Homo sapiens: one gene and its partner. Each later gene encodes a partner of the first gene's protein in a complex. Each region holds a gene or a part of one and is shown on either strand. Other genes may lie near its edges. The genes, in order: SCT and SCTR. A codon is read from its position in the direction of its gene.

Evidence for each region.
Region 2: the proteins of SCT (region 1) and SCTR are in contact, whole or in part, in a cryo-EM structure (PDB 6WZG), measured with the Homo sapiens proteins. Residues at the interface, in NP_068739.1 of Homo sapiens: His28 (codon at 2,526), Ser29 (codon at 2,529), Asp30 (codon at 2,532), Gly31 (codon at 2,535), Thr32 (codon at 2,538), Phe33 (codon at 2,541), Thr34 (codon at 2,544), Ser35 (codon at 2,547), Glu36 (codon at 2,550), Leu37 (codon at 2,553), Ser38 (codon at 2,556), Arg39 (codon at 2,559), Leu40 (codon at 2,562), Arg41 (codon at 2,565), Glu42 (codon at 2,568), Arg45 (codon at 2,577), Leu46 (codon at 2,580), Gln47 (codon at 2,583), Arg48 (codon at 2,586), Leu49 (codon at 2,589), Leu50 (codon at 2,592), Leu53 (codon at 2,601), Val54 (codon at 2,604); in NP_002971.2 of Homo sapiens: Arg30, Leu31, Cys32, Leu35, Asp71, Asn72, Pro117, Val125, Val127, Asn128, Asp129, Asn132, Arg135, His136, Leu139, Leu140, Leu142, Lys143, Tyr146, Tyr150, Arg188, Asn192, Lys195, Leu199, Phe200, Ser202, Asp203, Val205, Met219, Phe222.

The regions. Positions count from the first base shown.
Region 1 is NC_000011.10:625,611-629,504, reverse strand, and holds SCT (secretin preproprotein), read left to right. Parts: upstream 1-2,323; 5' UTR 2,324-2,361; coding exon 2,362-2,432; intron 2,433-2,515; coding exon 2,516-2,617; intron 2,618-2,715; coding exon 2,716-2,808; intron 2,809-2,974; coding exon 2,975-3,074; 3' UTR 3,075-3,196; downstream 3,197-3,894. UniProt on the Homo sapiens protein: Hormone involved in different processes, such as regulation of the pH of the duodenal content, food intake and water homeostasis.
Region 2 is NC_000002.12:119,522,791-119,526,390, forward strand, and holds the start of SCTR (secretin receptor precursor), read right to left. Parts: upstream 1,694-3,600; 5' UTR 1,437-1,693; coding exon 1,365-1,436; intron 1-1,364.

The DNA of each region.
Region 1 (3,894 bases):
ACATTTAACCCACGACAACATGCAAATGGAAACAAGCACCTGGAAAGAGGTTCGGAATCACCCGCCACTGGGGAAATGCAACTAAGACCACAAGGAGGTGTTGCCGCAGAGAGAATGGCTGAAGGTTAAAAATAGCGACTGCAGGGATGTTGACAGTGTGCAGAGAAAGTGAGGCCGGGCGCTGTGGCTCACGCCTGTAATCCCAGTGCTTTGGAAGGCCGAGGCAGGTGGATCACTTGAGGTCAGGAGTTTCAGACCAGCCTGGGCAACATGGTGAAACCCTGTCTCTACTAAAAATATAAAAATTAGCCAGTCATAGTGGCAGGCACCTGTAATCCCAGCTACTTGGAGGGCCGAGGCACAAGAACTGCTTGAAACCGGGAGGCGGAGGTTGCAGTGAGCTGAGATGGCCCCACGGCACTCCAGCCTGGGTGACAGAACGAGACTCCCTCTGAAAAAGAAAGAAAGGAAGGAAAGAAAGGAAGAAAGGAAGAAGAAAGGAAGAAAGGAAGAAAAAGAAAAAAAGAAAGAAAGAAAGAAAGAAAGAAAAAGAAAGAAAGAAAGAAAGAAAGAAAGAAAGAAAGAAAGAAAGAAAGAAAGAAAGAAAAGCAAGCAAGCCAGCAAGCCAGCCAGCCAGCCAGCCCCACATTGCTGGCGGGGCTGTGAAATGATGCAAACGCTGGGGAAAATATTGTGGCTGATTTAACAGACGGATACAGTGCATGACTCGCAACCACAGCAGAACATCAAAGGGCTTGACGGCCATTTCTCCGTCCACTCCATGATGTATAAATGGCTCACAGACACTTGAGAACATGCTCCACATCGCTGGCCATTAGGGAGATGCCAATCAAAACCGCAGCGAGACACCACGTCGCACCCACCGGCATCGTTAGTACGCGACAAACAAAAAGCCACAAAGTAGCAAGTGTTGGCGAGGACAAGAACCGTGTCCCTGCTGCGCTGCTGGGAAGACAGTTTGGCGTTTCCTCAGAATATTTAACACATAATTACTCTGTCACCCAGCAATTCCCTCATAACTATACACCAAGAACGCTTGAAAACGGGATCGGGAAGCGCCGTTTGCACACCCACGTTCACAGCAGCGTTACTCGCCGTCGCCCCAAAGGGGAGGCAGCCCAGGTGTCCATCAAGATGCCCACAGATGAGCGGACGCGGTCGATGCGGTCCCTGCACACAGCGGGACACAGTTCCCCACAAAAGGGAAGGAGATTCCCACACAGGCCAGGCCGCGGCGGCGAAGGCGGAGGATGCTGCGCTGAGAATCCAGCCGGTCTCCAAAGGACAAATCCCGTGAGGCTCCCCCTGCGCGCAGTCCCTGGAAGCGCTGAATCCACAGACAGAAAGTGGACGGGGCGCCGGGGCTGAGGAGGGGAGGGGGCGTTTGATGGGGACAGAGCTTCATTCTGGGAGGACAGGAGAGTCTGAGAACGGATTTTGGGAGGACGGGAGCGTCTGTGAACGGATTTTGGGAGGACGGGAGCGTCTGTGAACGGATTTTGGGAGGACGGGAGCGTCTGTGAACAGATTTTGAGAGGACGGGAGAGTCTGAGAACGGATTTTGGGAGGACGGAAGAGTCTGAGAATGGATTTTTGGAGGACGGAAGAGTCTGAGAACGGATTTTGGGAGGACGGGAGCGTCTGTGAACGATTTTGGGAGGACGGGAGCGTCTGTGAACGATTTTGGGAGGACGGGAGCGTCTGTGAACGATTTTGGGAGGACGGGAGCGTCTGTGAACGGATTTTGGGAGGACGGGAGCGTCTGTGAACGGATTTTGGGAGGACGGGAGCGTCTGTGAACGGATTTTGGGAGGACGGGAAAGTCTGAGAACGGATGGTGGGGATGGATGCACCGAATGATCCTGAATCGCGCACTTCAAAGCAGATAAAATGGCAACACCGGCCCCCCAACAGTCACGCCACGCTGAAGCTGGAGACGAACTCGCCCCAGCAAGGTGCTCCAGGGGCCTCCGGAACTCCGGCCGCAGCCCCTTCCCCGGGGCCCCCCAGTCCCCCCCCAAACCCTCCCCCAAGCCCTCCGGCCCCTCCGCCCCCGCAGGCTCCGAGGCTTCGCGGTGCGGTTCCCTCTGCGGGTCCCAGGCCCGCGCTCCGTTCGCCCCCCAGGCCGGGACGTCCCCCTCCCCCAGCCGGCCGAGGGGCGCCAGCGCGGCGGAGGGGGCGGGAGGCCGGGCCGGGGCGACAGCTGGGGGGGCGGCCCTGACCTTCCCGGGATCGCTGGGCGCGGCCGGGCCGTCCCCTTTCCGGGCGCCGCCATAAAGGGGCCTTGCGGGGGCCCGGGGCCGTGGCCGCAGCGCTCAGCTCCTGCGCCCCGACCCCGCCATGGCCCCCCGGCCCCTCCTGCTGCTGCTGCTGCTCCTCGGGGGCTCCGCCGCGCGCCCCGCGCCCCCCAGGTGAGCCGCCCGCCAGGCCCGCCCGCCCCCCGGGCCCCACCCGCCCCCAGTGCGCCCTGACCCCGACCCCCGACCGCCCGCAGGGCCCGGCGACACTCAGACGGGACGTTCACCAGCGAGCTCAGCCGCCTGCGGGAGGGCGCGCGGCTCCAGCGGCTGCTACAGGGCCTGGTGGGGAAGCGCAGGTGAGGCCGGGTGGGGTGGGGGGTCCTGGCGTGGTGCCCCAGCAGCAACGCGCGACCCCCCAGCTCCAGGACTAACTCTGTTTTGGGGCGGGGGGCAGCGAGCAGGACGCAGAGAACAGCATGGCCTGGACCAGGCTCAGCGCGGGTCTGCTCTGCCCGTCAGGGTCCAACATGCCCATCCTGCAGGCCTGGTGAGCACCCGCCCCACCGCAGACCCCACTCCAGACCCCACCCCAGACCCCTCCTTCTGTCCTGGCCTCCCCGGGTCAGCGCTGGTGGCCACTGGAGGCCCAATTCCAGCAGCGGGGCCGGGGTCTCCAGCCCCAGCCCTCAGACCCTCACGTGCTGTCTCTGCAGGATGCCCCTGGACGGGACCTGGTCTCCCTGGCTGCCCCCTGGGCCTATGGTTTCAGAACCAGCTGGCGCTGCTGCAGAAGGAACCTTGCGGCCCAGATGAGGAAGGAACCCCCTCACCACCTGCCCGGCCCAGGAGCGCAGCTGCATTTGGGGTGGGGGGCAGGATGGGGGAGAGGGGGAGGGGTGGTACTTGGCACCAATAAAGGAGGAATCAGACCCAGACGCTGGGAGTTGTCTGTGTCCACTCAGTGTAATCGAGGCAACCCCTGTGTAGCGGGGCTGAGGGATGGATGGAGGCCCATCCACCCAGGAGGGACTGACCACACCCAGCTGCCCTTTACACCTGCAGGCACGGCGGCCCCTCATCCTTATCTCTGGCATCAGGGCCACCTCCTGTACCTCGACTAAGTACTGCAGGGCCCCGCCCCACCCCTTGTCATCCATTAGGAAACATTCTGGGGCTCGGGGGATCCCGGACACCCTCTCAGCTCCTGCCCGGGGGCCCATGTGGTCAGTGTTTCTGTAAGGGGTAGTGGGGAGGGTGTGAAGGGGCCAGGGGGGCTCAGGCGGGCAGGAAGAGGGGAGGGTGGAGGTGTCACCTGGGGTGCCAGGAATCCACTCTGGCGTGAGGACTCCGGACCCTCTGTCTCGTGTGGCCTCGGACCAGTGGCTTGACCCCTCAGAGCCTGTGGAGCACGGAGCGTGCAGGGCTTGAAGGCGACCATGAGGGCACCGTGCAGGGTTAGGACACTGAGCCCAGCCCCAGCCATGAGAGGCCAGAAGCTTCGGCGCACAGGCCTGGAGGAGGAGAACTCCACCTACCCCTCACGACAGCCACTTCCTCGCCCCGACCCTACCCAGTGGCCTCTCCCTAGAGCTGGGGGCTTCTGGGGGGCCAATGAAAAGAGCAGGGCAAGTGT
Region 2 (3,600 bases), on another chromosome or scaffold:
TCTACCTGGCTTTGCACTGTCCCCAGTATCCCAGTTGGCATTTCTCCAAATTGGGAGTCAAAACTCATGAGTGCATGCTGTTGCTCTAGCGTCTTCCAAGGCCAGCACTGCCACTGAAGAGAGGAGGCTCCACGGTGGCAAGGGAGCTCCAAGCAAGCTCCAAATTGCACTCATCCCAACTACTGCTGCTGAAAGTCTTGGGGCTACCAGAAAAATGAGCATCTCCTGAGTGTCAACACTCTGGTCGGCTCCGGGAGCATTGGTTTTCCTTATAATCAAACCAGAGGAGACTAAGGGAAGACAAGGAGGCTGGACACCATGAGACTTGCCCAGGACAGAGATCAGAGACTCAGTTGGGTCCCCAAGCGCGTTCCCTGGGGAGCTTCTTGGAAGAGACGACTTGGGGACCAATTTGGAATGCTAGTGGGAAGGGATGATTCTGGAATCTGGCCCCCACCTCTAACCCCCACTCCCTCCCCATTCCTTCCTTTCTGCTGGTCTGGGTGGGGCCACTCTCTTTATCAGAGATCCCGGAGCTCAGAGAGGCCCGGGACTCCCAGGAATTTCTGTTGGAAAGAAAAACAAACCACCCATCCTGCCGCTATTATTATTATTATTATTATTATTATTATTATTATTATTATTATTATTTTCCTCCTCCAGCCCCTTGCCAGGACCTGGCTTTGGGGAACAGCAGCGCCCTGGAGCCACCAGGCACGCAGACATTAGGGAGCCGCATCCCACACGAGACGGTGTGGGGAGAGCGGCAGGCGGTCCCATCGCAGACCCAGAAGCTCCTGCCAGAGCTCCCTCAGGTTTTCCCATCCGCAGCCCGTGAGTGTGAAAATGTCAAGGTTTGGGGGCAGACTGATACTGATGTGGGTTCCAATCCTCTTTTTCTGACTTGCAGCAAGAATTTTTATTCCCCCTCTCCTCTCCTTTCCTTTCCTTTCTTTGTCTGTAAAGTGACGGTGATAATAGCAGCCTCGAAAGGTGATTACCAGGTTTCAAGGAAAGATTGGAGGCAAAGCGCCCAGGACACAGTAGGCACTGCCACGGGCGGCTCCAGAATTTCCGTGTAGGAGAGTTTCAGAAGCCAGACCAGAGGAAGGGGTCGGTGGTGGGCACAGGGATTCATCTTAGAGCCGCCTTCGTCTGGCGCGCACGATGTTTTTCTTTGGGAAAGGGTCCCTCCGGAGAAGAGCTGGGAGAGATTAATGTTGGGAGGATTGGGAGGGAAGAGTCCCTATTCCTCATGGGAAGATCTGCTAGTCCCTCTCCACCTGCATCCTGCCCGAGGCCGGAGAAAGGGCGAGACTGTCGCTCCCTCGGGTCCCCAGCCTGCAGAAGGGCGCAGTACTCACCGAGTGCGCGGCGCAGGCGAGCAGCACCGGCAGTAGTAGCTGCTGCAGCGGCGGCGACAGGTGGGGACGCATGGTGCCCGCACGTTCCCCGAGGGCGCCCCGACGTCCGCCTGCCCGTGCCCTCTGCCCGCTCGGGAGCTCAGCGCCCCGCGCAGGGTCCCGGGCTCCGGCCGGCCGCTGCGCCCCGAGGAGCCATGGCTGAGCCACCCGACCTGCGGCGGGCCCCGGGACTGCTCCTCCTCGGACCAGGTGGCCGCGCGCGCTAAGCCGCCCGCCCCATTGATCAGGACGCGGCTTTGCCGGCGCGCCTCCTCCACCCGGCAGGGACTGGCGCGGGGTCGGCGCGGAGGCTGGCAGGGGAGGAGGCAGAGGGAGGGCGCGGGGACCCGGAGTCGGCTCCCGCAGGCTGGGCCCAAGCTGGAGGAGGCCAGGAGAGGGCACGCTGGCTTAGCCTTCTACGCGGCAATCCCGCCCAACCCCGGGTCCGGAAAGAGCACTGTCTCTGGAGTCCACGGACAGAAAGCGCAAGCTCGCTGGGGGCCGGTGGGCAACTTAGGTCACCTTTGTAAGCCTCGGCTTTCTCATCCCTAACAACACGTCTGATAATACCCACTCTCGGACTGAAAGTTGTCACACAGTCGAGGCCCATTGCATCTATTCCCCCCGATAGCTACCTTGCACTTTATTTCCGATTTTTTCATTATTGAAGTCATTAGCGCTAATTCCATGAAGTTTCACTCCCATGAACTCCTCCTTTGATGATGACCAAGGAGGATCTGTGGTACACTCAGGCATCTGGGGACCGTCCTGAGGATGAACCCCCTGGGAGGCTATTTAAGCCTCAGGCAGGTAGTCCCAGTAGCCCTCTCCATCGGTGCTGTGTATCCTGGAGGTTTGCTTTTGGCCTCTTAGTACAAGGCGTCTCTTAGTACAAGACGTCCTCTTAGTACAAGGCGTCTCTTTTGGCCTCTTAGTACAGGGCGATGGCCCTTTTTTACTGTTACATAAAAAAGAGAGTCTCACCATGTTGCCCAGGCTGGTCTTGAACTCTTGGGCTCAAGAGATCCTCTCACCTCGGCCTCCCAAAGTGCTGGGATTACAGGCATGAGCCACTGGGCCCAGCACTAGATGGGTCTTGCAAACTCAATTTTCCTTAGTCTGCACTGGTGCCCACTCCCTTCCTTCTTCTCTCTCCTCCTTTCTTGATCTTTCTCCCAGGCACTTTAAGTACATCAGCTCATTTAATTCTCCCTCACACCCCTAGGTGATACGATGTCCATTTGACAGAGGAGGGCATTGGAGGTGGAGGAGGATTCATTACATGTCTGGGTACTGCAACTCAGAGGCTCAGACAGGAAAGCCTGAATCTACCCTTACATGGCTGACCCGACTCTCTGTAACTGGCCCTTACGCAGAAGGCCATGCAGCTGTTAAGGTAACAATGTGTTGTCCTTAGCAGCCTTCCCTACCGGAAGAGACTATTAGTAAATTGAGGCTGGTAAATCCCAGCAGAAATAAAAGGGAGGAAAATCCATTCAGCTCCTAGGTCCAAAACCAATGCTCAGTACACATCAAACCTAAAGTATACATAATCACCAACCCCCTGCTAGAAACTCTTTCTACATAAATACTCACCCAAGGGCCTAATGAAATGTGCAAGGATGTTTGCGGAAGCACTATGACAGTGGCAGGAAACGAGATGATATATGGGGAAAGGGAATCACCCTTATTTCTTTCTTTCTCATGGGCAGCAGTCATTACTATAATGCTCCTGACTTGTTTCTACCCCTTCCCTCTCTCTGTCTGTCTATCCCCCACCTCTCTCTCATGTGCACCCACACGCAAGCATGCATGCAGGCACGTATACACAGGTGAGGCCAGCTTACATGATTGATGCATTTGGAATAAGGAACTGGCATGAGTTCGGTCCCCTCCTCTCTCCTTCCTTTGACAGTGTGCCCCCCTACAGAGAGCCTGTAACTGGATTTCCCTGGGCCAGGCTGTGATTAGTGGTCGAGGCTCTACTGGAACTGGTCCAGTATGAACTGTTGTCTCTCTAATTCTGGGGTTTAGTTAGGAAACCCACTTGCCTACAAGTATAAACCACATTCTGCAATACTGACTTTATAAAGTGATATTTGGCCGCATCTGTCTTGATCTTATTTCTCAATTGGTTCAAGTTTCAGGCTAGAAAGAAAAATGTTATTTCCTAGGCTGCTTGAACCGCAGCACCCTA